Linked DNA regions of Homo sapiens. Each later gene encodes a partner of the first gene's protein in a complex. Each region holds a gene or a part of one and is shown in the gene's direction. Other genes may lie near its edges.

The links.
Region 2: the proteins of SUFU (region 1) and GLI1 are in contact, whole or in part, in a crystal structure (PDB 4KMD), measured with the Homo sapiens proteins. Residues at the interface, in NP_057253.2 of Homo sapiens: Leu144, Tyr147, Asn153, Thr154, Phe155, Gly158, Asp159, His160, Val161, Ser162, Trp163, His164, Gln212, Asn265, Leu266, Ser267, Gly268, Val269, Ser270, Ala271, Glu376, Leu380, Lys398; in NP_005260.1 of Homo sapiens: Gly119 (codon at 3,223), Ser120 (codon at 3,226), Tyr121 (codon at 3,229), Gly122 (codon at 3,232), His123 (codon at 3,235), Leu124 (codon at 3,238), Ser125 (codon at 3,241), Ile126 (codon at 3,244), Gly127 (codon at 3,247).

What each region holds. Positions count from the first base shown.
Region 1 is NC_000010.11:102,504,605-102,515,428, forward strand, and holds part of SUFU (suppressor of fused homolog), read left to right. Parts: intron 1-678; exon of another isoform or gene 679-711; coding exon of another isoform or gene 712-815; intron 816-3,674; exon of another isoform or gene 3,675-4,302; intron 4,303-4,564; coding exon 4,565-4,699; intron 4,700-10,824. UniProt on the Homo sapiens protein: Negative regulator in the hedgehog/smoothened signaling pathway. Down-regulates GLI1-mediated transactivation of target genes. Down-regulates GLI2-mediated transactivation of target genes. Part of a corepressor complex that acts on DNA-bound GLI1.
Region 2 is NC_000012.12:57,461,612-57,472,435, forward strand, and holds the end of GLI1 (zinc finger protein GLI1), read left to right. Parts: intron 1-1,131; exon of another isoform or gene 1,132-1,361; intron 1,362-2,053; 5' UTR 2,054-2,080; coding exon 2,081-2,180; intron 2,181-2,387; coding exon 2,388-2,480; intron 2,481-3,061; coding exon 3,062-3,257; intron 3,258-3,499; coding exon 3,500-3,644; intron 3,645-3,995; coding exon 3,996-4,085; intron 4,086-4,176; coding exon 4,177-4,314; intron 4,315-4,628; coding exon 4,629-4,778; intron 4,779-5,721; coding exon 5,722-5,886; intron 5,887-6,382; coding exon 6,383-6,613; intron 6,614-7,819; coding exon 7,820-8,087; intron 8,088-8,705; coding exon 8,706-10,450; 3' UTR 10,451-10,657; downstream 10,658-10,824. UniProt on the Homo sapiens protein: Acts as a transcriptional activator. Binds to the DNA consensus sequence 5'-GACCACCCA-3'. Regulates the transcription of specific genes during normal development.

The sequences.
Region 1 (10,824 bases):
CAGGAGCGAGGGAACTGTAAACGTGGTGAAAAGAGGGGGCGCCTGTAGGGGGTCATTAGTGGGCGAGGGGAAGCCAAGCGGGGGCGGCCGAAGTGGGATGGGAGAGGCGAGGCGGGGCCTGGGGAGCATTTGAGAGGGCTTTGGAGGAGCGAAGCCGAAGAAGCTCAGAGGGCACGAGACTGCATAGAATGGGGGGTTCGGGGGGCCCAGGGCTCTCCTGTGGTGGGTAGGAGGGCCAAAGATGAGGGCCTGGTGCTTGTGGAGAGAGGAGGAGGTCTCCTTTTGATACCTTCCCGATTAGCTCAGACGTCGTATCAGGGCAAAGCTTTTGCTTTTGAAGTTTGACGGAGCAGCTCTTCCTGATAAACTTTTTGCTTACTCTGCACTGTTCTCTTTCTCCGTGCAGAGCTTCCTCCTAGCTCTGCAGTTGCTTCGCTTTAGGGCATTAGGTAGAGAGAACCATGGTTTGGCTTAGGATTGAAGGGGCCGACAGCTTCCCACCTCCAGTTGGAAATAAATGGTGGAGACTCTGGGACCCCAGCAGGGAGGAATTGTGCAGTGGGACATTAAGAGGAGCTTCTCGGCCATGGCCTGCAGTTTCTCCGGGGAGCTGAGAGTAACCCTCAAGTAGCTTTAGGGTAGGAATGGTCTTTTCTAATTTCCCATTCCTGTTTGCAGCCTGTTTCTTCCTTCAGCATTTGGGCAGAACAGATGTTCTGGGGACTCTGGAAAAGAACCTGTCCTCAAAGTCTTGCTGGACCAAAAACTGAGATATTGGTTGAAACTGTCCAGGACCACATTCATGCAGGCATTGTGTAAGATGATCTTCAATGAGTCTTGAAAGACTGTTCTGCAGCTGCTTGGGGGTGTAGCCAAAGGGTAGACCTGAAGGGGCAAGTGGACATCTTTGCTGGTTACCTCTCCTTTTAGGACTGAGTCTTCCTCCTGGTGAAAACCTGTTGCTTCCCCTGGACATCGGTGTCAGTAGGCTGTGCAGGGCTGAGGCCAGCTGCCCGCATCAATGGGAGGATGCCAAGAGGCCAACAGCGTGGAGAGCCTGGGGACCAGCCACCTGCTGTCTAGGGAGGATTGTAGGGAACAGCCTCCTCTGTCAGAGTAGACGGGAGGAGGTGGAACTGGTGTCGCAGTCCTCTCTCACTGGCGAACTGTTCTCTGGTTGAGAGGAGTTGTTGAAGAGCGCTTCTGAGTGGAAAGCAGCTCTTGCTAGCTTAATGACCCATTCTCATTGTGCCTTTATATTTAACTATGTGTTGTGATGAACTTGTTGTCATGTGTCAGGAGAAAAGTGGGCCTGGGCTGGGCACAGTGGCTCATGCATGTATTCCCACCACTTTGGGAGGCCTTGAGGATCCCTTGAGGCCAGGAGTTCGAGACCAGTGTGGGGAGCGTAGCCAGACCCTAACTCTGTTATTTGAAAAAAAAAAAAAAAAAAAAAAAAAAAGAAGTGGGCCTGGCTCTGCCACGCTGTTTGTTCAGGCCTCATTTGAGTGTGAGGAGAAATCCCTACACAGATTCAGGCAACTATTTTTATGTCACCCAAGTAGCCATAAAGGATAGAATTGTATGTAAAAGGTATGAAAGCATGTGCAAAGGACTAAGGGCAATTTTTTTTTCCTTCCTGCTGCAAGCTTGTTAACAGCCATATCTTCAGAGATGGGCCAACATGTGATAATGAAGAAAAGGGATTATACAGCACTTTGTGAAAGCCCTTCCTAGATGCAGAAAAGTATAAAGAGAAACAGCACAGTGACTGGTACTTTCTTTTTTTTTTGAGACAGAGTTTTGCTCTGTCACCCAGGCTGGAGTGCAGTGGCACGATCTTGGCTTACTGCAACCTCTGTCTCCCGGTTTCAAGCGATTCTCGTGCCTCAGCCTCCCAAGTAGCTGATATTACAGGCACACGCCACCTTGCCCAGCTAATTTTTGTATTTTTAGTAGAGGCAGAGTTTCACCATGTTGGCCAGGCTGGTCTCGAACTCCTGACCTCAAGTGATCAACCCACCTCGGCCTCCCAAAGTGCTAGGATTACAGGCGTGAGCCAGTGCGACCAGCCATCAGTGACTGGTACTTTCTAAGATGTGGAGGGGTTTGCAAAAATAAGATCCTGAAATTCATTTATATTCCTCACATTTGGGATCCCACGAGGTTTCTAGCAGGATGACTGACCCAGGCTGTCTGGGTCTGTCTGTGGCCCAGGGTAGCTTGGGATTCATTTTGCAATAGCAGTGTGGCTCTGTGACTGGTGATCCCTGAGTAGTGGGGACATTCTAACTGAAAGCTGAGACTTTGGTGAGCAAGGATCAAAGCAGAGAGGCAGAACCTGTACTCATGGCCCACTTCAGTCCTGCAACTGCCCTGCAGAGAGAAGTTGGGTGTTCAAGGAATTAAGTTGAGGGATGCCCTGGGACCTTGGATAACATCATTTGCTAAGTGTAAAATGCGATTTTTTTCCACATACTCATCTGGCCTCTGAGTAGTAAGTAAACAGAATACTCTGTGCTTGGGGACAGGGTTAATTTTATCTGACTCTTGGTAGTTCCTTGCAGTTGGAGTTTGAAGGTTAAGCTTCTCTCCTTGATGTGACACCTTGTGGGAGACTTGGTGAGAAAGAGGGCTGCAGGGATGCTGCAGATGGAGCAGAGAATGGTAAACACAGTTTTGCAGCTTGGTGCAGGATGGACCTAGGCTGTAGCGGGGCAGGTTTGGAAATTTGCAGCAGGAAACTGGAGCAGGTATGGGGCCTGTAGTGGCTCTCATCTGCTCTGGAGTTCTGTAGCTCTAATGGGGTCTTTCCAGGGATCTCTACTCTTTTCTTTCTTCCCTTGCCCCACAAACTTTTCTAAATCCAACCTGTTGTAGAATTAGTCAAGTGATTTGTTGAAATCAGTTAAGGCAGACATGGAGAGTTGTCCCTCTTCCTCTGTTGAGATGCTAAGCTATTTGTAGCAACTTTCTTAAAAGTTCTATAAATAACTTAGCATTTCCTAACAGAGAATAGGGATTTCTATCCACAAAGGCAAATAATATCCTGGTGAAAGAGGACGAAACAAGACCAACTGGTTTTAAATAGTGTTTAAATTGCCTGGTGCTGGCACCATTGACTGGGATCACTTGTAACATGTCTTTTATTTGGTTGTTAGCTTTCCACCAGCATGCTATCCCAGTTGCAAAGTGTACTCCATCGATGTCCCAGGGGCAGGTGAAGCTTTTGCAGTCTGTGGAATGGTCAGATGTTTGAGGCAGCTCAAATGCCGTGTTTGTGGGCTAAATGCAGACTTCCTTCCACTGATGGTTTCTATTTGGTCTATTTCTCTAGCTACCAAAATTTCTTATCCATTTTTTTTTTTTTTTTTTTTTTTAGACAAAGTCTCACTCTGTCACCCAGGCTGGAGTGCAGTGGCGCAATCTTGGCTCCCTGCAACCTCTGCCTCTGTTGTCCAGGCGATTCTCCTGCCTCAGCCTCTCAAATAGCAAATAGCTGGGATTACAGGCACCTGCCACCACACCTGGCTAATTTTTTGTATCTTTAGTAGAGATGGGGTTTCACCATGTTGGCCAGGCTGGTCTCAAACTCCTGACCTCAAGTAATCCACCCACTTCGGCCTCCCAAAGTGCAGAGATTACAGGTGTGAGCCACCGTGCCCGGCCAAAACAGGATTTTTTTTAAAAAGCACTGATTACTAAAGGGAACTCTTATTGTATTAAATCCTCAGAGTGAGATAATAACTGAATCTCTTCCGCAACTCCTTCTCAGTTGAATGGTGGGGGAAATTTAATGTGGTCCTGAGAGGCCCCAAATCATTTACCATCCCAGCTCTACCTTTGATGTGGCAGTCTCTCCTGGGATCATTTTCTGGGTGCAGATGCTCACAGGGCGCAGTTTGACTCCTTCTGCAGTTCTCTGTGCAGAACTAAGTTAAGCCTAAGTTTGGCCTTTGTCACTTGCAATGATAAGAGACCAGCTTTGGTCTATGGGGTGCAGGCTGGTGTCAGCACAGACTAGAGGCTTTGGGTTTGTTTAGAACAAACTGTAATTAACATAGGGCACAATATAGTCTTTCAGGAATTAGCTGTCTAAGAGGCTGGAGTGGAGCAGAGCCTCTGCTTCCAGGAACAATGCCCATTGGGGATGCTTGGGATGGTCTTTCAACAGAGGCCAATTGATTGACTGATGTACCTCTTGCCTTGAAGCTTGGCATGTATACAGGCACCACAGAAGAGAGACAATCCCTGCCAATCTCATTTGGGATCGGTAATTTGAAACAGGAGAAAGCAAAATGGGTAACCATCCAGTCTGTTTTATTTCTAAAAGAGGCCCAGTCTTTCAGGGGTAGGAGAAGGGAGCCTCTTGGGCTTGCAGAGTTGGGCAGCCTTAGCTGTCCATCCCTTAGTCTCATTCTGGAGAGATGTGGCCTCTGTTTAGTTACCTTTCACCCAGGTTCCTCCAGGATGGGTCCTTTAGGTTTACAAAGTAGAGCGCCTTAGCTTGACATTGTCTGATTTCCAGGCTTACACTAACACCCCTGTGTTTTGTTTTTTGCAGGTTGGGTGGCCCAGACCCCTTGGACTATGTTAGCATGTACAGGAATGTGGGGAGCCCTTCTGCTAACATCCCCGAGCACTGGCACTACATCAGCTTCGGCCTGAGTGATCTCTATGGTGACAACAGAGTCCATGAGTGAGTATATGCCACCTGTTCTTTATCCAGAGCCTTATTCCTGAGGTCTTCCTGAGCAGGGGTGACAATGTCATAGTGCTGTGAGCATGGTACTTCTCCGTGGAACCTCTGCATTTCTGCCCTCTGACTATATCTACTCATGCCAAGGTGGTCCTCGTTAACACCTGATTCCTGCTTATCTAGTGCAGGAAAGTCTTGATGAGCAGGATTCCCAAATCAGGTTTTTCTAAGCTTGCCCTGGAGTTTGGGCTCATAGGACAGGAAGGTAGCATGGTTATGACTCAGAACTTGGGCTGATGCCTCTGTGTCTACTTCCTTTTATTCCCCTAGCTTATTATGAAACATTTTAAACATAAAGCAAAGTTGGAAGGATTTTATAGTGAACACTCATATACCCACAACCCAGATTCTACTGTTAACTTTATACTTGCTTTATCACAAATCTGTTCATCTCTTATCCTTTATCTATCTTACCTACTTCCTTTTAACCTGTATTTATTTATTTTTTTATCTTAGTCTGCTTCCGTTTGTTGCCCTATATGCTTTTTTTTGGAGATAGGGTCTCACTCTGTCATCCAGGCTAGAGTGCAGTGGTATGATCATGGTTCACTGCAGCCTCGACCTCCCTAGGCTCAGGTGATCCTCCAACCTCAGCCTCCCGAGTAGCTGGGACGACAGGCAAGCACCACCATGCCCAGCTAATTTTTGTAATTTTTTTGTAGAGACAGGGTTTCACCATGTTGCCCAGGCTGGTCTCAAACTCCTGGGCTTAAGCAGTTCTTCCACCTCAGCTTCCCAAAGTGTCGGGATTATGGGTGTGAGCCACTGTGCCCAACTCAGAGTTCATACTGTTAATGACTGTATTCTCTTGCCTTTTGAGCAATTATATCATGTACTCCAATAAGCTACCAACTATTTTTTTTAGAAACAGAGTCTCGCTTTGTTGCCCAGGCTGGAGTGCAGTGGGGTGATCTTGGCTCACTGCAAGCTCCACCTGCCGGGTTCACGCCATTCTCCTGTCTCAGCCTCCTGAGTACCTGGGACTATAGGCACCCACCACCACGCCCAGCTAATTTTTGTATTTTTAGTAGAGACGGGGTTTCACCATGTTAGCCAGGATGGTCTTGATCTCCTGACCTCGTGATCTGCCTGCCTCGGCCTCCCAAAGTGCTGGGATTACAGGCGTGACGACTGTGCCCGGCCTGCTACCATCTATATTTTAAAAAGATTTTTTTTGGCTGGGCACAGTGGCTCATGCCTGTAATCCCAGCACTTTGTGGGGCTGAGGCAGGTGGCTCACTTGAGGTCAGGAGTTCGAGACCAGCCCGGCCAACATGGTGAAACCTTGTCTCTACTAAAAATACAAAAAATTAGCCAGGCATGGTAGCATGTGCCTGTACTCCCAACTACCCCGGAGGCTGAGGCACGAGAATCACTTGAACCTGGGAGGCAGAGGTTGCAGTGAGCTGAGATCGTGCCACTGTGCTCCAGCCTGGGCAACAGAGTGAAACTGTGTCTTAAAAAAATAATAATTAGGCTGGGTGTGGTGGCTCACGCCTATAATCCCAGCACTTTGGGAGGTCGAGGCAGGCGGATCACCTGAGGTTGGGAGTTTGAGACAAGCCTGACCAACATGGAGAAACCCTGTCTCTACTAAAAATAATAAAATTAGCCGGGCGTGGTGGCACATGCCTGTAATCCCAGCTACTAGGGAGGCTGAGGCAGGATAATTGCTTGAACCTGGGAGGAGTAGGTTGCAGTGAGCCAAGATTGTGCCATTGTACTCCAGCCTGGGCAACAAGAGTGAAACTCCATCTCAAAAAAAAAAAAAAAAGTAATAATAATAATAATAATAATGAAAATAAACAAAGTTTTTTTTATTTATATTCTTTTGATGGAGAGTTTCTTTTCTTCAATTTAAATGTAATCTTTCTATGTTTGTATTCTGTCAATTAAAAATAAAATAAATAGTCTTCCCTCAACCTCATTAGCATGGTTAATCAAGAGCTGATTTTATTTGTATTGTCATATCCTCTTCTGGTTTTTGCCTTTTGTACTTTTTTGCCCCTTATACCATGTCTTTTCTATCTTGGTGGTGGCTGCTTAACCTGGGCAGGTTGAAAGAGTAGCAGGACTCGTCCTGTCCTGCCTTTGCATAGCGACCAATTCTGGAGATGATGATGGTATCATAAAGAAGATGATGATAGCCTTTTTTCCCTTTGTTTAGTACTTACTGTCTTCCGTGTCATTGTGTTAAATGCTTTACAATCTTATCAGGGTCTCGTTATTCCTATTTTATAGATAAGAAAAATGAGTCTCTTGAGGGGTTAAATGAATTGCTAAAGTTACAGATCTAGGGGTAAAAGAGCTGGGATTGAATTGGGCTGTTTGAGTCCAAAGTTTGAGCTTTTTTGTTTTGTTTTTTGAGACAGGGTCACGCTCTGTCACCCAGGCAGGAGTGTAGTGGCTCAGTCATGGCTCACTGCAGCCTCAACCTCCTGGGCTCAAGCAATTATCCCACCTTAACCTGCCAAGGAGCTGGGACTACAGGCATGCACCACCACACCTGGCTAATTTTTCAAATTTTCTGTAGAGTTGAGGTCTCACTATGTTGCCCAGGCTGGTCTCAGATGCCTGGGCTGAAGCGATCTTCCTGCCTTGGCCTCCCAGAGTGTTGGGATTACAGGCGTGAACCACTGTATTCAGCCTCAGAGTTTGAGCTTTTAACCACTGGGCTATTCCACCTCTCTGAACACAGGCCTAACCCAACTTCCTCTTCTCTCTTGTTAAGCTCAGAGGCCCAGGTTTCATCTCTTCGCTGGTCACGTGTTGGGAGCAATGTCTGCAGCTGCCTTTACAGCCTTCCAAATGGATTCATTGCAGTGTCAGCAGAAGGATTTGGGAAGAGGGAATTAATCTTGCCTGAATGGGGACCCAGCATTACAGTATTAATAATGGAGATAGAATAGCAAACAGATGTGGGGAGTAAAGAGACTATGCTGGACCTTAATTTATATTTTTAATAAGAACCTGCAGAGAGTATTTAGTGCAGCTAGCCTGTACCTTTTTGTTGACAGATTTATTCTGGTTAAAAGAATATCATTTCCTATGTGGCTTAAGGATTCTTCCAGTCTACCTGCTAGGTATAGGCCCAAGGCCCAAAATAACATGAAGAATGTGATTGAGCAAGCCTCATATTTCAGAAGGGGCAACCTCTTAATTTGAAATAGGACCTTTCTTATTGTTTTTTTCTGGTTTAATACTATCCTCTTACATGTGTTTCATTTCTACATGGTACAGCACTTTGTATTCATATGTCATTTATGACAAGAGTGAAACCTCTATTTGGGTTTTCATGTCACCAATCAAGCCTAGTATTTTCCAGTATTACATCCTGGCACTAGAAGAATGTGGAAGGAATGTTCTCAGATATTTACCCAGTTCTGGTCTATGTTGCAGAAGTCAAAAGTACTTCTATAGGCTGCGCATGGTGCCTCATGCCTATAGTCCTAGCACTTTGGAGGTCAAGGCAGGAGGATCGCTTGAGCCCAGGAGTTTGACACCAGCCTGGGGAACATAGTGAGACCCTCCCCCATCTCTACAGAAAATACAGAAATTAGCCAGACATGGTGGTGTGCATCGTAGCCCTAGCTGCTTGGGGGGCTGAGGTGGGAGGATCACTGGAGCCTGGGAGTTTGAAGCTGCAGTAAGCCATAATTGCACTACTGCGCTCCAGTTTGGGTAACAGAGCGAGACCCTATCTCAAAAAATAAATAAAGAAAGAAAAATAATAAAACACGAATAGGTACCTTTATAATTGGCTTTGTACTGGGATGACTGGTTTCTTTTTGATCCTGTTAAGTTTCTTGAAGAAAAATGTGATTTTCCACACATTTCGTAATGGTGGGGCCTCTTTAAAATGACTTAATGAATCCTCATTTAAATTAGTACTCAAAGCTAGGCCAGAAAGGCAAGTGTTCTGCCATCCAGCTTAAGTGCTAAGGGGCGCTGGGTTGGAATGATGGCAAATGGATCTCTGGCAACAATTCTTCCACTGTCTGTGTCTTCTCTTCAGCAAAAAAGGAGCAGAAGCATTGATTCATTTTTTCAGCACACATTCATCAAGCACCTACTTTGTATCAGACACAGAACATCGTAATAGATGTCTTGGGGGATAAAATAGCAAGACATAATTCTTGTCTGAAGGAGCTCATGTTCTAGAGGGGAGATAAACATGTAAAGATGGTTATAATATTGAGTAATAAATGCTACAGTCCATGGGTGTAAAACACGGTCTGGGAGCAGAGCAGAGGGAGTAACTTCTAGTGAGGCTGCTGAATTGCTAGAGGCTGCAGTGAGGAGGTAGCGTTTGAGAGGAACCCTGTAGGAAGGGGCCTGGGATGCCATCTGCAGCCTGACGCGGTACCAACAACGCTTTTAGGAGTGAGAGGGACTTGAAAAACCTTCTAGCTCAGTATTTCAAAAACTTCTAGTGCCACTTTCATAATTGTTGCCACTTGTAGTATTATTTACTTCATGTTCCTTTTAAGTTATCCTCTCCTTTTTTAAACTGATATGAATTTATTTTTATTTTTATTTTTGAGATGGTCTCGCTCTGTTGCCTAGGCTGGAGGGCAGTGGCGAGGTCACGGCTCACTGCAGCCTCAACCACTCTGGCTCAAACGATCCTCCTACCTCAGCCTCCCAAGTAGCTGGGACCACAGGCATGCACCACCACACCCGGCAAATTTTTTTTTTTTTATTGTTGACACGAGGTCTTGCTATGTTGCCCAGGCTGGTCTCGAACTACTGGACTCAAGCAATCCTCCTGCCTTGGCCTCTCAAAGTGCTGGAATTGCAGGCAAGAGCCAGTGCTCCTGGCAACGGCATTTATTAAATGCCTGCTGTGTACCTCCTCCTATTATGATCTTTCCTTCTCCTCACAGCCTGTTGAGGGTAGGGACAGGCAGAAGCGAGGGGTCCTCTGCATTTCTTCTTGCTCCTGGCAGGCATGCTTCAGGGTCAGGAGGGGATGCCCACCCTGGTAACCCTAAAAGGGATGAAGAGTATGATGATTTGATAAGCCTTGGGATGGCCATTTTCATTCAAGTTCTTTCCTTATTCACATTCACTAAAGGAAACCAGGCAAGAGAGCACTTGTTTTGATCAAGATTCTTAAGAAGCCATTTCTGAAGTTGGAGAGATGGAACAAGTTCCAGGTCTGGGCAGCCACAGGAGAGAACAGAGTGCTTTTCTAGGAACCCCAAGGCTGCTCCCAACTGACCTGAGTGGAGAAATTGTCCTGTGGGACTCTTCCCTGGGACTTGGGAGGTGTCAGACAGCTGAGCCTCAGCTGCCAAGTGCTGTCGGAGCTTGCAGCTCTGGCCTTCCCCTTCATGGCCAGCTAGCTGTGGACTGGAATGTGGGGATCTATGCGGCTGTAGAAGTGGTTTCAGCATCACTCTGTGAGGATTTCTGGCTGTCCCTGGTACCACCAACAGCTCTGGCTAGACAGAGCCTATGGGGCCCTAACCGAGGCTGGAAGGCTGGGTAGTTGGAGAGTGCATTTGAGAACTCAGGCAGACTTCCCTGGTGGGATTTTCCCAGGGCAGGTCATCTGCTGTACAAGTCGGGCTGGTTCCAAAGACAGCCTTTGTGTGGAGTTGGCCCAAAAGCATGGGTCATGCCCATGCCTCACCACCATGGGTGATCTAGGCTCTGTCTCACAAATGTGACTTCTTGGCGCACATGTCCAGTGGAGTTTGGAGCAGTTCTGCACCCCCCGTGGGGTCTGGAACTGCCGCTGACCGGCTTTCTGGGGCTGCCTCCACCCGGTTGGTGGAGAGCCTCCCTTTCCCTTGTGTTCTTCTTAGCTGGGCTCTGCACCCGCATGAGTTATTTATTAAAACACTGGATACAGATTAACTTTTCCACTTGTTGTTTAGTGTGGCCTCCGTCTCCTGCAGTTGAGAAATGCTAATTTTTCCTCCTCAAAGCTTAGTTTGCCGGAACTTTTTTTTTTTTTTTTTTTGAGACGGAGTCTTGCTCTGTCACCCAGGCTGGAGTGCAATGGTGTGATCTCACTCACTGCAACCTCCACCTCCCTGGTTCAAGTGATTCACCTG
Region 2 (10,824 bases), on another chromosome or scaffold:
GTGCTGAGAGGAGGAGGGAAGAATGTGGCCCGCCCCTCAGCCCCCACCCCTATGGCTCGCTCTACTGGGCTCCCGGGGCGGGTGGGGGGAGCGGAGCCGTCTGCAGCCAGTGCCTGCGGCGGCGACTTGGGTGGGCCGAGGAGGCACGGGGGCGGGGAAGGCGGGACCGGGAGTAGGGGGGCGGAGCCGACTCCTGGGAGTTGGGGAGCGGGGGTGCGAGGGGGACGCTGGAAAACAGGGAGACACCGAAGATGGTTTAGGGCTCCGGCAGGGGAACCCTAGAGCTCCCTGTCCCATCCCGAACTCTCACACCCCAGAAAAACTTTACCGAAGCTAAAAAAGTTGGCGACATTTTCCTTTTACTAGCCTGAAGGGGAGATATGGGTGGGCTGTGGAACGCGTGGGCGAGGAGGGGTGTAGCCCCATTTCCTTGGAGGCTCTTCGGCAGCTAGGCAGTGGGGCAGAAAGATGACTGAGTAGGCAAGTTTGGGGGAGTCTCTAGTGTTTGGGGGATCATTTGCAAACTTCCCTCCTTCCCCTGGGTGAGTCATAGAGGGAAGGAGGCGGGAGAATTGTCCCCCCATCCAGCTGCCAACCAGCTGTGCCCCCCGCCCCCCAACATTAGTTCCAAGGTCGAGTTGGGAGGTCTTGGATGCGGGATCCGCACCTCGGTTGGAAAAGGAGGAGTTAGAAAAGGGTACAGCCCAGGCTGCCGGGCCGGGCTGGGTCGCGGGGTCCGGGTTCCGCTCCCCATCTCACCCCGCCCTCACCCTAAATCCCAGCATCCCGGGATCACCCACCGCGCCGGCCGGCCCGGCCCGCTCCCGGTGGTTCTCCACCCCATCCCGCCCCACCCCACCCTCATTCCCGGGAGACTGGAAAACCCGGGATGGAGTCAAAACTGGAGTTTGAAAAGAAAAACGGACAGCAGCACCTTCTTCCTCGCTACGCTTTTATAAGGATCACATTGTTTTTTTCATTCTCTCAGAGTCTCCCCTCATACTTCCTTTCCTGTTCCCCCAAAACAGAGACCAAAAAGATTAGGTGGGCCTGATTTAAACTACCCCAGAATAACACCAGCTTTCACCTTTGTGCCCAACAGACCCAGAAGACTCCCCTCAGGAACCTTACCTCCTCCTCCACACTGTTTTCTGTCTAAGAGGGCAGATGGCTTGTGCTCCCTCCTGGCCCCACCTGGCTCTGTGTCGGGACTGTGGCTAGGGCTCCCTCTGCTGGACACTGCAGAGATTGTACACGGGCTGTCCCTGGGGAGGGGCACGAGAAGGAAGGGGGAACGGGCTCTAGCAGAGCCGCCCAGTGCTTGAAGTCAGATCCATCACACGAGTTCTCCCATCCCACCCTCAAAGCCGGCCCAGGGTTACAGCAAGAAGAATTAGAGGGTCCATGTTACTAAAATCACTTGAAGTTAATATAGGCACAATTAGTCCAAAACATGCCTTCTACACACAGACCACACAGGCAAAGCTCCCACCCAGGCAAAGCTCCCACCCAGTTCCCAAGAAGATCCCCAGAGTACACAGACTACAAGACTGCCTCTGCCTCTCTGGGACATCATTTCCCCTTACCCCTCCCCTCACTCAGCGAGTGATGCTTTTTTTGTTTTGAGACGGAGTCTAGCTCTGTCACCCAGGCTGGAGTGCAGTGGCACCATCTCGGCTCACTGAAACCTCCGCCTCCCAGGTTCAAGCGATTCTTCTGCCTCAGCCTTCCGAGTAGCTGGGATTACAGGCACCCGCCATCATGACTGGCTAATTTTTGTTTTTTTGTAGAGACGGGGGTTTCACCATGTTGGCCAGGCTGGTCTTCAACTGACCTCAGGTGATCCTCCCGCCTCAGCCTCTCAAAGCGTTGGAATTACAGGCGTGAGCCACTGTGCCCGGCTCAGTGATGCTCTTTTCAACTCGAATTCCGTGGCAGATGTCTTAGAGGGGTGGGGGATACCAGGGATGTTCTGCCCAGGATTCTGTGCCTGAGACTGCTGTCTGACAGTCTCTATTTCCTCCACCTTTATACCTACCTTCCCTTTCTGCAGTGTCCCCACACCCTCCTCTGAGACGCCATGTTCAACTCGATGACCCCACCACCAATCAGTAGCTATGGCGAGCCCTGCTGTCTCCGGCCCCTCCCCAGTCAGGGGGCCCCCAGTGTGGGGACAGAAGGTCAGTGTATATACCAATCCCTGGGCCTTGAGGATTTGGCAGATCTCCCACTTGGGCCCACCCCCACCCCATGCCAGTTTCCTATCTACAGGAGGATTTGAGGCCCCATGTCATATGGACCTGGAATCTGGGATCAGGTCATGTCTGGGGTTTTAAGGTGAGGTTTATGTATCCTCCATTCCCATTCCAGCTGTCTCTTTTTTCTAGGACTGTCTGGCCCGCCCTTCTGCCACCAAGCTAACCTCATGTCCGGCCCCCACAGTTATGGGCCAGCCAGAGAGACCAACAGCTGCACCGAGGGTGAGGGCTCAGGCAACACCTCTTCCCTTTCTGCCCCTCTCTGACTTGTTCTGAAAGAGAAAGTGGGAGGGCAGGGGATCTCACTTGGAGGAGGAGATGCTTGGAGATGTGAGGCGTCAGAGCACCATCAAGAAGTCACAGATGGGGCCGGGCGCGGTGGCTCACGCCTGTAATCCCAGCACTTTGTGGGGAAGCCGTGGCAGGAAGATCGCTTGAGGTCGGGAATTCAAGACCAGCCAGGCCAACATGGTGAAACCCTGTCTCTACTAACAATACAAAAATTAGCCGGGCGTGGTGGCTTGCACCTGTAGTGCCGATTACAGGGGAGGCTGAGGCAGGAGAATCACTTGAACCTGGGAACGCAGAGGTTGCAGTGAGGCAAGATGGTGCCACGCACTCCAGCCTGGGTTACAGAGCATGACTCTGTGTCTCTCAAAAAAAAAAAAAAAAAGTCACAGATAGCATCAATAGGGCAAAGCAGAATCAAGTATCATTGGTTTTGCCAAGTCAGGACCCATAGGTTAGGTGCATGGAGAGACATGCCCCTTTACCATATCCGTCTCCGCTGTCTCCTGCCCCAGGCCCACTCTTTTCTTCTCCCCGGAGTGCAGTCAAGTTGACCAAGAAGCGGGCACTGTCCATCTCACCTCTGTCGGATGCCAGCCTGGACCTGCAGACGGTTATCCGCACCTCACCCAGCTCCCTCGTAGCTTTCATCAACTCGCGATGCACATCTCCAGGAGGCTCCTACGGTCATCTCTCCATTGGCACCATGAGGTGCAGTCAGCCCCGGGCCAAGAGGCCCCTAAAGCCCCTACCCAAGTCCATTAAAAGTCTCAAGCCCTCAAACTACCTAACCCTATTTGAATCCTTGTCATTTCAAAGACAACTCTCCTCAGTACTTCCCTGGGACTGCCTCAACCACTACAAATCCCAAGTCTTCCAGAAATCCTCCAAATAGCCCAATCCTTCCTGAGACTTCCTAATTGTCTTAAGTAACTGCCTCCTCTCCTCCTCAGCCCATCTCTGGGATTCCCAGCCCAGATGAATCACCAAAAAGGGCCCTCGCCTTCCTTTGGGGTCCAGCCTTGTGGTCCCCATGACTCTGCCCGGGGTGGGATGATCCCACATCCTCAGTCCCGGGGACCCTTCCCAACTTGCCAGGTGAGAGTCCCCATATTGCTACCTGATTTCCCTCAGCTCAGGGTGGGTGGGTGGTGGATTTTGTAGGGGAAAGGTGAAGGAAGGACAAGGGATATAAGTTTTCAGTACTAGAAAAGTAAAGAGGTGTGGGTGCTGGGGTTCACTCCTTGCAGTTGAGTCAGACGCTTCCAAATGGGATCCCACCTTTTGCCCATCCCATTCACCAGTGTAGTCTGAGGAGGAAGTCCCTTCCAAACCCAGGAGGTTCCAGCTGCTTGGGTGGGGGCACTTAGGGCAGGAAGACCTGGCTTGGTTTCCTCTTCCTTCTGCTTACTTCCACCCTCATCACCGTCACCTCTTCCCCTGGGGAAGCTGAAGTCTGAGCTGGACATGCTGGTTGGCAAGTGCCGGGAGGAACCCTTGGAAGGTGATATGTCCAGCCCCAACTCCACAGGCATACAGGTAAGGGGATGGGCAGGAGCTTTACCTCTGGGACCTGAGCAAAACTAAAGCTGTCACCCAAGTGACCCTGAGATTGCCTCTCTTGCCCTAGGATCCCCTGTTGGGGATGCTGGATGGGCGGGAGGACCTCGAGAGAGAGGAGAAGCGTGAGCCTGAATCTGTGTATGAAACTGACTGCCGTTGGGATGGCTGCAGCCAGGAATTTGACTCCCAAGAGCAGCTGGTGCACGTGAGCCCCAGGGGGTAACAGGAATGGCTAGCCAGAACCTTTAGGAGATTCTGAGTGGGACATGGTGGAATCCGGCTGAGGGCAGGAGGTCAGAGGAGACTGAGGTTGAATGCTCAGTTGGGTAGGCAGAAGCTCAGAAGTTGTAGCTTTGCCTTAGGGAGCTGGAAGACCTGAGATGTGAGATATGATATTGCTCCTGCCTCTTCCTCCTTGAGGTGGAGTCGTGGAAGAGGAACAGGGGGTGGAGGGAAGGTCTGTTCTGGACCTCAGGGTCATGGGAGAGCCTTGGAGAGCCTTTGTATCTTCTCCCTCAGCACATCAACAGCGAGCACATCCACGGGGAGCGGAAGGAGTTCGTGTGCCACTGGGGGGGCTGCTCCAGGGAGCTGAGGCCCTTCAAAGCCCAGTACATGCTGGTGGTTCACATGCGCAGACACACTGGCGAGAAGCCACACAAGTGCACGGTGAGGCACCAGTGTCCCAAGTCCAGGGTCTCTTCCTAAATCAGGGCTCTCCTTCAAGGTAGGGCCCAAGGCAGACTTTTGCTTTTATAAGTCCTTTCTTCCATAAACAAATATTAAAAATAATGTTTGTGTGACTGTGTTGGCATAAAGATGAATATGATGATATATATTAAAACACTCTTGGACCTAAAAGCTCATTTTTTTCCCCTTGATTTTAAAAGACATTAAAACAGGCCAGGCACGGTGGCTCACACCTGTAATCCCAGCACTTTGGGAGGCTGAGCCAGGCAGATCACAAGGTCAGGAGTTCGAGACCAGCTTGGCCAATATTGGTGAAACCCTGTCTCTACTAAAAAATATAAAAATTAGCTGGGCGTGGTGATGGGCGCCTGTAGTCCCTGCTACTTGGGAGGATGAGGCAGAAGAATCACTTGAACCAAGGAGGTGGAGGTTGCAGTGAGCTGAGATGGCGCCACTGCACTCCAGCCTGGGCGACAGAGCAAAACTCCGCCTCAAAAAAAAAATTTTTTTTAAAAAAGACATTAAAACATGTTCGTGGGCCTCTTAAAGTATTGTTGGCCTTCAGTACTGTGCCTACTACTCTGCCTAATGGATAAACCCTGCATCAAGGACAACAGCCCGTTCCCCCAAGATGACCCCATCTTGGGACAGCCTAAGATCCCCATGCAGAGAAATCTGCCCTGGCTTGGTCAGAAGATGCTCTAGCATCTTTATATTCCCAAAGGGAGAGTGCCTCCAACTGCTTCCCTTCTCCAAGTTCTTGCCTGCCCTTGTCCCCTAGTTTTGGGAATTCTCTCGAAGCCCCAGTGCCTTTCATCTTGAGTTATATTCTCTGATGTGTGTCCTGTTGGAGATTGAGGGTTCCTTCCATCTCCATGTCCTCTGTCTGAGAACTATCCTTTGACCCCTGCATGTCCCCCAGTTTGAAGGGTGCCGGAAGTCATACTCACGCCTCGAAAACCTGAAGACGCACCTGCGGTCACACACGGGTGAGAAGCCATACATGTGTGAGCACGAGGGCTGCAGTAAAGCCTTCAGCAATGCCAGTGACCGAGCCAAGCACCAGAATCGGACCCATTCCAATGAGGTGAATGCCCTAACTAAGCGACCCTCCCCTCTTGAGAAGCCACCTACCAGGGAGATTCCCCCATAAGAAATCCCTTAGCCCAGCACCCACTCCACAGAGGTGAGTCCCCCTCCCCACATAATTCGCCCAGAAAAGGCTTTTCTGAAACCCAGAATTTCCACTTAACCACTCCTCCTCCTACCTCTAACCTCTAACCAGCCAAAAGGCTAACCTAAAAGATTCCATCTAGAGGAGACCCCTGATCCCTCCAACCCCTGGATTTATGGGACCTCACAGCCCTGGGTTCACCCCCTCATCTTTCCCAGGCTGTCAGTTTTCCTAACCCTCCACTTAATCTCTGCATCTTTGACTCCCACCGGAGGCCTCCATCCTCCTTACTTCCTTTGGTGCTGTGTGCTCCTCCCCTGCCCCCTGTGTTGTCACCACTTTTTCCCATTTCTTCTGCATTCTTCCGCTTTGATCCGTTTGCCTTCTGTCTCCACTCTCCACTCAACAGAAGCCGTATGTATGTAAGCTCCCTGGCTGCACCAAACGCTATACAGATCCTAGCTCGCTGCGAAAACATGTCAAGACAGTGCATGGTCCTGACGCCCATGTGACCAAACGGCACCGTGGGGATGGCCCCCTGCCTCGGGCACCATCCATTTCTACAGTGGAGCCCAAGAGGGAGCGGGAAGGAGGTCCCATCAGGGAGGAAAGCAGACTGACTGTGCCAGAGGGTGCCATGGTGAGAGAGCCCAGGCAACCCTCACCTCCATACCCCAGCCCACCCTGTGGACATCTTTCTAGTTACTTCCCAACCCATCCATTCCCTCCTATAGAAGTCACTCTTCTGTGACCAGTCTGCCTGTCTCTTGTCTTAGTGTTGCTCTTTGGGCTTCCCCAAATCTAGAGGTTTTAGAATCTTTCTGTCTCACTCTCTCACTCTCTTTCTCTCTCTCCTTCCTTCCTTCTTTCCTTCTTTCCTTTCTTCCTTTCTTTCTTTCTCTCTCTCTCTCTTTCTCTCTTTCTTTCTGACAGAGTCTTGCTCTGTCGCCCAGGCTGGAGTGTAGTGGCATAATCATAGCTCACTGCAGCCTCAAACTTCTGGGCTCAAGTGATCACTACAGGCACACCCCATCATGCCTGGCTAATTTTTCTTCTTTTTAGAGATCGAGTCTTGCTATGTTGACCAGGCTGGTCTCAAACTCCTGGCCTTGAGCGATCCTCCCACCTCAGCTTCCCACAGTGCTGGGATGAGCCAATGCATCCAACCCAAACTCTTTCTTTTTTTTTCAGACGGAGTCTCGCTCTGTTGCCCAGGCTGGAGTGCAGTGGCATGATCTCGGCTCACTGCAACCTCCGCCTCCCAGGTTCACGCCATTCTGCCTCAGCCTCCTGAGTAGCTGGGACTACAGGCGCCTGCCACCACGCCGGGCTAATTTTTTTGTATTTTTAGTAGACATGGGGTTTCACTGTGTTAACCAGGGTGGTCTTGATCTCCTGACCTCGTGATCTGCCCACCTCGGCCTCCCAAAGTGCTGGGATTACAGGCGTGAGCCACTGCACCCGGCAACTCTTTCTTAAATAGCACTTAGTATATGTTCCAAGCCTTTTACATGTATAATTTCATGTACTCCTCACAGCAACTTCATGATAAAGGGACTCACTGTTCCCATTTTCAGTTGAAGAAACTCAGGCATAGAGAAATAGCCCAAGGTCATAGAACTAAGAGCAAGAATTTGAGTCCAGCCAGTCCGTGCTCCAGCCTAGGTTCTTCTCATCAAACGTCTCACATTCAGTTTGCTCCCCCATCTCTTACCTGCTTAGCCCTTTCTACACTTACAAGCTTCCTTGGAACCCCAGCAGTCACTGGGACACAGGCTTCAGCCACTCATCAAGTTGAAGGAGCTGTGGGGAAGGGTGTTGCCCTCAGACCTCATCTTCTCCACAGAAGCCACAGCCAAGCCCTGGGGCCCAGTCATCCTGCAGCAGTGACCACTCCCCGGCAGGGAGTGCAGCCAATACAGACAGTGGTGTGGAAATGACTGGCAATGCAGGGGGCAGCACTGAAGACCTCTCCAGCTTGGACGAGGGACCTTGCATTGCTGGCACTGGTCTGTCCACTCTTCGCCGCCTTGAGAACCTCAGGCTGGACCAGCTACATCAACTCCGGCCAATAGGGACCCGGGGTCTCAAACTGCCCAGCTTGTCCCACACCGGTGAGACCTGGGTGTGGGAGGTGTGGCTGGGGTGAGATCTGGACCTGCCCTGAGGTTGAGAGGAGGAAGTCACCCTTGAGGGCTGTCACACAGCACTTTTGTATAATTAGAAAATGGTGTCCTTCCTCAAGACACTTTCCATTTATCAGAAAATAGTTGTGATGTACAAACATGCAAAGGCTAGCCAGGCATGGTGGTGGGCACCTGTAATCCCAGCTACTCAGGAAGCTGAAGCAGGAGAATTGCTTGAACCTGGGAGGCAGAGGTTGCAGTGAGCTGAGATTGCGCCATTGCACTCCAACTTGAGCAACAAGAGCGAAACTCTGTTTCAAACAAAACAAAACAAAACAAACAAACAAACAAGTATGCAAAGGCTATGATGCGAATGCTGTTCCCTAGGATTGTGCAGCACACAACCTGCACAACTGTTCATAGCAACCCTGAATCCTTGGTAACCCAGAAACAGAATAGGCATGGGAGAAGTAGGAGACAGAACAGACTGGTTAGGGATAACGAGCTTACCCCTGAGAATCCAGGGCAAGGCTGTTGCATGGAGGAGGCAGGGTGAAATTTAGGAAGCTCCTTGACCATCCTACCTTTTCTCCCCATCACTTGCAGGTACCACTGTGTCCCGCCGCGTGGGCCCCCCAGTCTCTCTTGAACGCCGCAGCAGCAGCTCCAGCAGCATCAGCTCTGCCTATACTGTCAGCCGCCGCTCCTCCCTGGCCTCTCCTTTCCCCCCTGGCTCCCCACCAGAGAATGGAGCATCCTCCCTGCCTGGCCTTATGCCTGCCCAGCACTACCTGCTTCGGGCAAGATATGCTTCAGCCAGAGGGGGTGGTACTTCGCCCACTGCAGCATCCAGCCTGGATCGGATAGGTGGTCTTCCCATGCCTCCTTGGAGAAGCCGAGCCGAGTATCCAGGATACAACCCCAATGCAGGGGTCACCCGGAGGGCCAGTGACCCAGCCCAGGCTGCTGACCGTCCTGCTCCAGCTAGAGTCCAGAGGTTCAAGAGCCTGGGCTGTGTCCATACCCCACCCACTGTGGCAGGGGGAGGACAGAACTTTGATCCTTACCTCCCAACCTCTGTCTACTCACCACAGCCCCCCAGCATCACTGAGAATGCTGCCATGGATGCTAGAGGGCTACAGGAAGAGCCAGAAGTTGGGACCTCCATGGTGGGCAGTGGTCTGAACCCCTATATGGACTTCCCACCTACTGATACTCTGGGATATGGGGGACCTGAAGGGGCAGCAGCTGAGCCTTATGGAGCGAGGGGTCCAGGCTCTCTGCCTCTTGGGCCTGGTCCACCCACCAACTATGGCCCCAACCCCTGTCCCCAGCAGGCCTCATATCCTGACCCCACCCAAGAAACATGGGGTGAGTTCCCTTCCCACTCTGGGCTGTACCCAGGCCCCAAGGCTCTAGGTGGAACCTACAGCCAGTGTCCTCGACTTGAACATTATGGACAAGTGCAAGTCAAGCCAGAACAGGGGTGCCCAGTGGGGTCTGACTCCACAGGACTGGCACCCTGCCTCAATGCCCACCCCAGTGAGGGGCCCCCACATCCACAGCCTCTCTTTTCCCATTACCCCCAGCCCTCTCCTCCCCAATATCTCCAGTCAGGCCCCTATACCCAGCCACCCCCTGATTATCTTCCTTCAGAACCCAGGCCTTGCCTGGACTTTGATTCCCCCACCCATTCCACAGGGCAGCTCAAGGCTCAGCTTGTGTGTAATTATGTTCAATCTCAACAGGAGCTACTGTGGGAGGGTGGGGGCAGGGAAGATGCCCCCGCCCAGGAACCTTCCTACCAGAGTCCCAAGTTTCTGGGGGGTTCCCAGGTTAGCCCAAGCCGTGCTAAAGCTCCAGTGAACACATATGGACCTGGCTTTGGACCCAACTTGCCCAATCACAAGTCAGGTTCCTATCCCACCCCTTCACCATGCCATGAAAATTTTGTAGTGGGGGCAAATAGGGCTTCACATAGGGCAGCAGCACCACCTCGACTTCTGCCCCCATTGCCCACTTGCTATGGGCCTCTCAAAGTGGGAGGCACAAACCCCAGCTGTGGTCATCCTGAGGTGGGCAGGCTAGGAGGGGGTCCTGCCTTGTACCCTCCTCCCGAAGGACAGGTATGTAACCCCCTGGACTCTCTTGATCTTGACAACACTCAGCTGGACTTTGTGGCTATTCTGGATGAGCCCCAGGGGCTGAGTCCTCCTCCTTCCCATGATCAGCGGGGCAGCTCTGGACATACCCCACCTCCCTCTGGGCCCCCCAACATGGCTGTGGGCAACATGAGTGTCTTACTGAGATCCCTACCTGGGGAAACAGAATTCCTCAACTCTAGTGCCTAAAGAGTAGGGAATCTCATCCATCACAGATCGCATTTCCTAAGGGGTTTCTATCCTTCCAGAAAAATTGGGGGAGCTGCAGTCCCATGCACAAGATGCCCCAGGGATGGGAGGTATGGGCTGGGGGCTATGTATAGTCTGTATACGTTTTGAGGAGAAATTTGATAATGACACTGTTTCCTGATAATAAAGGAACTGCATCAGAAAAAATACCATGCCACTTTATGTATTATTATGTTGGGGAGGAATGATAACAGGGAACAAGAAGAGAAGCAGGGGTTAATCCACTCACTTTCCTCTTTAGAGAAGCTCCCTCACCCATCCCAACACCTCAAGTCACACTCATGAAGATAGAGACAGTCATTTGGGAGATTTAA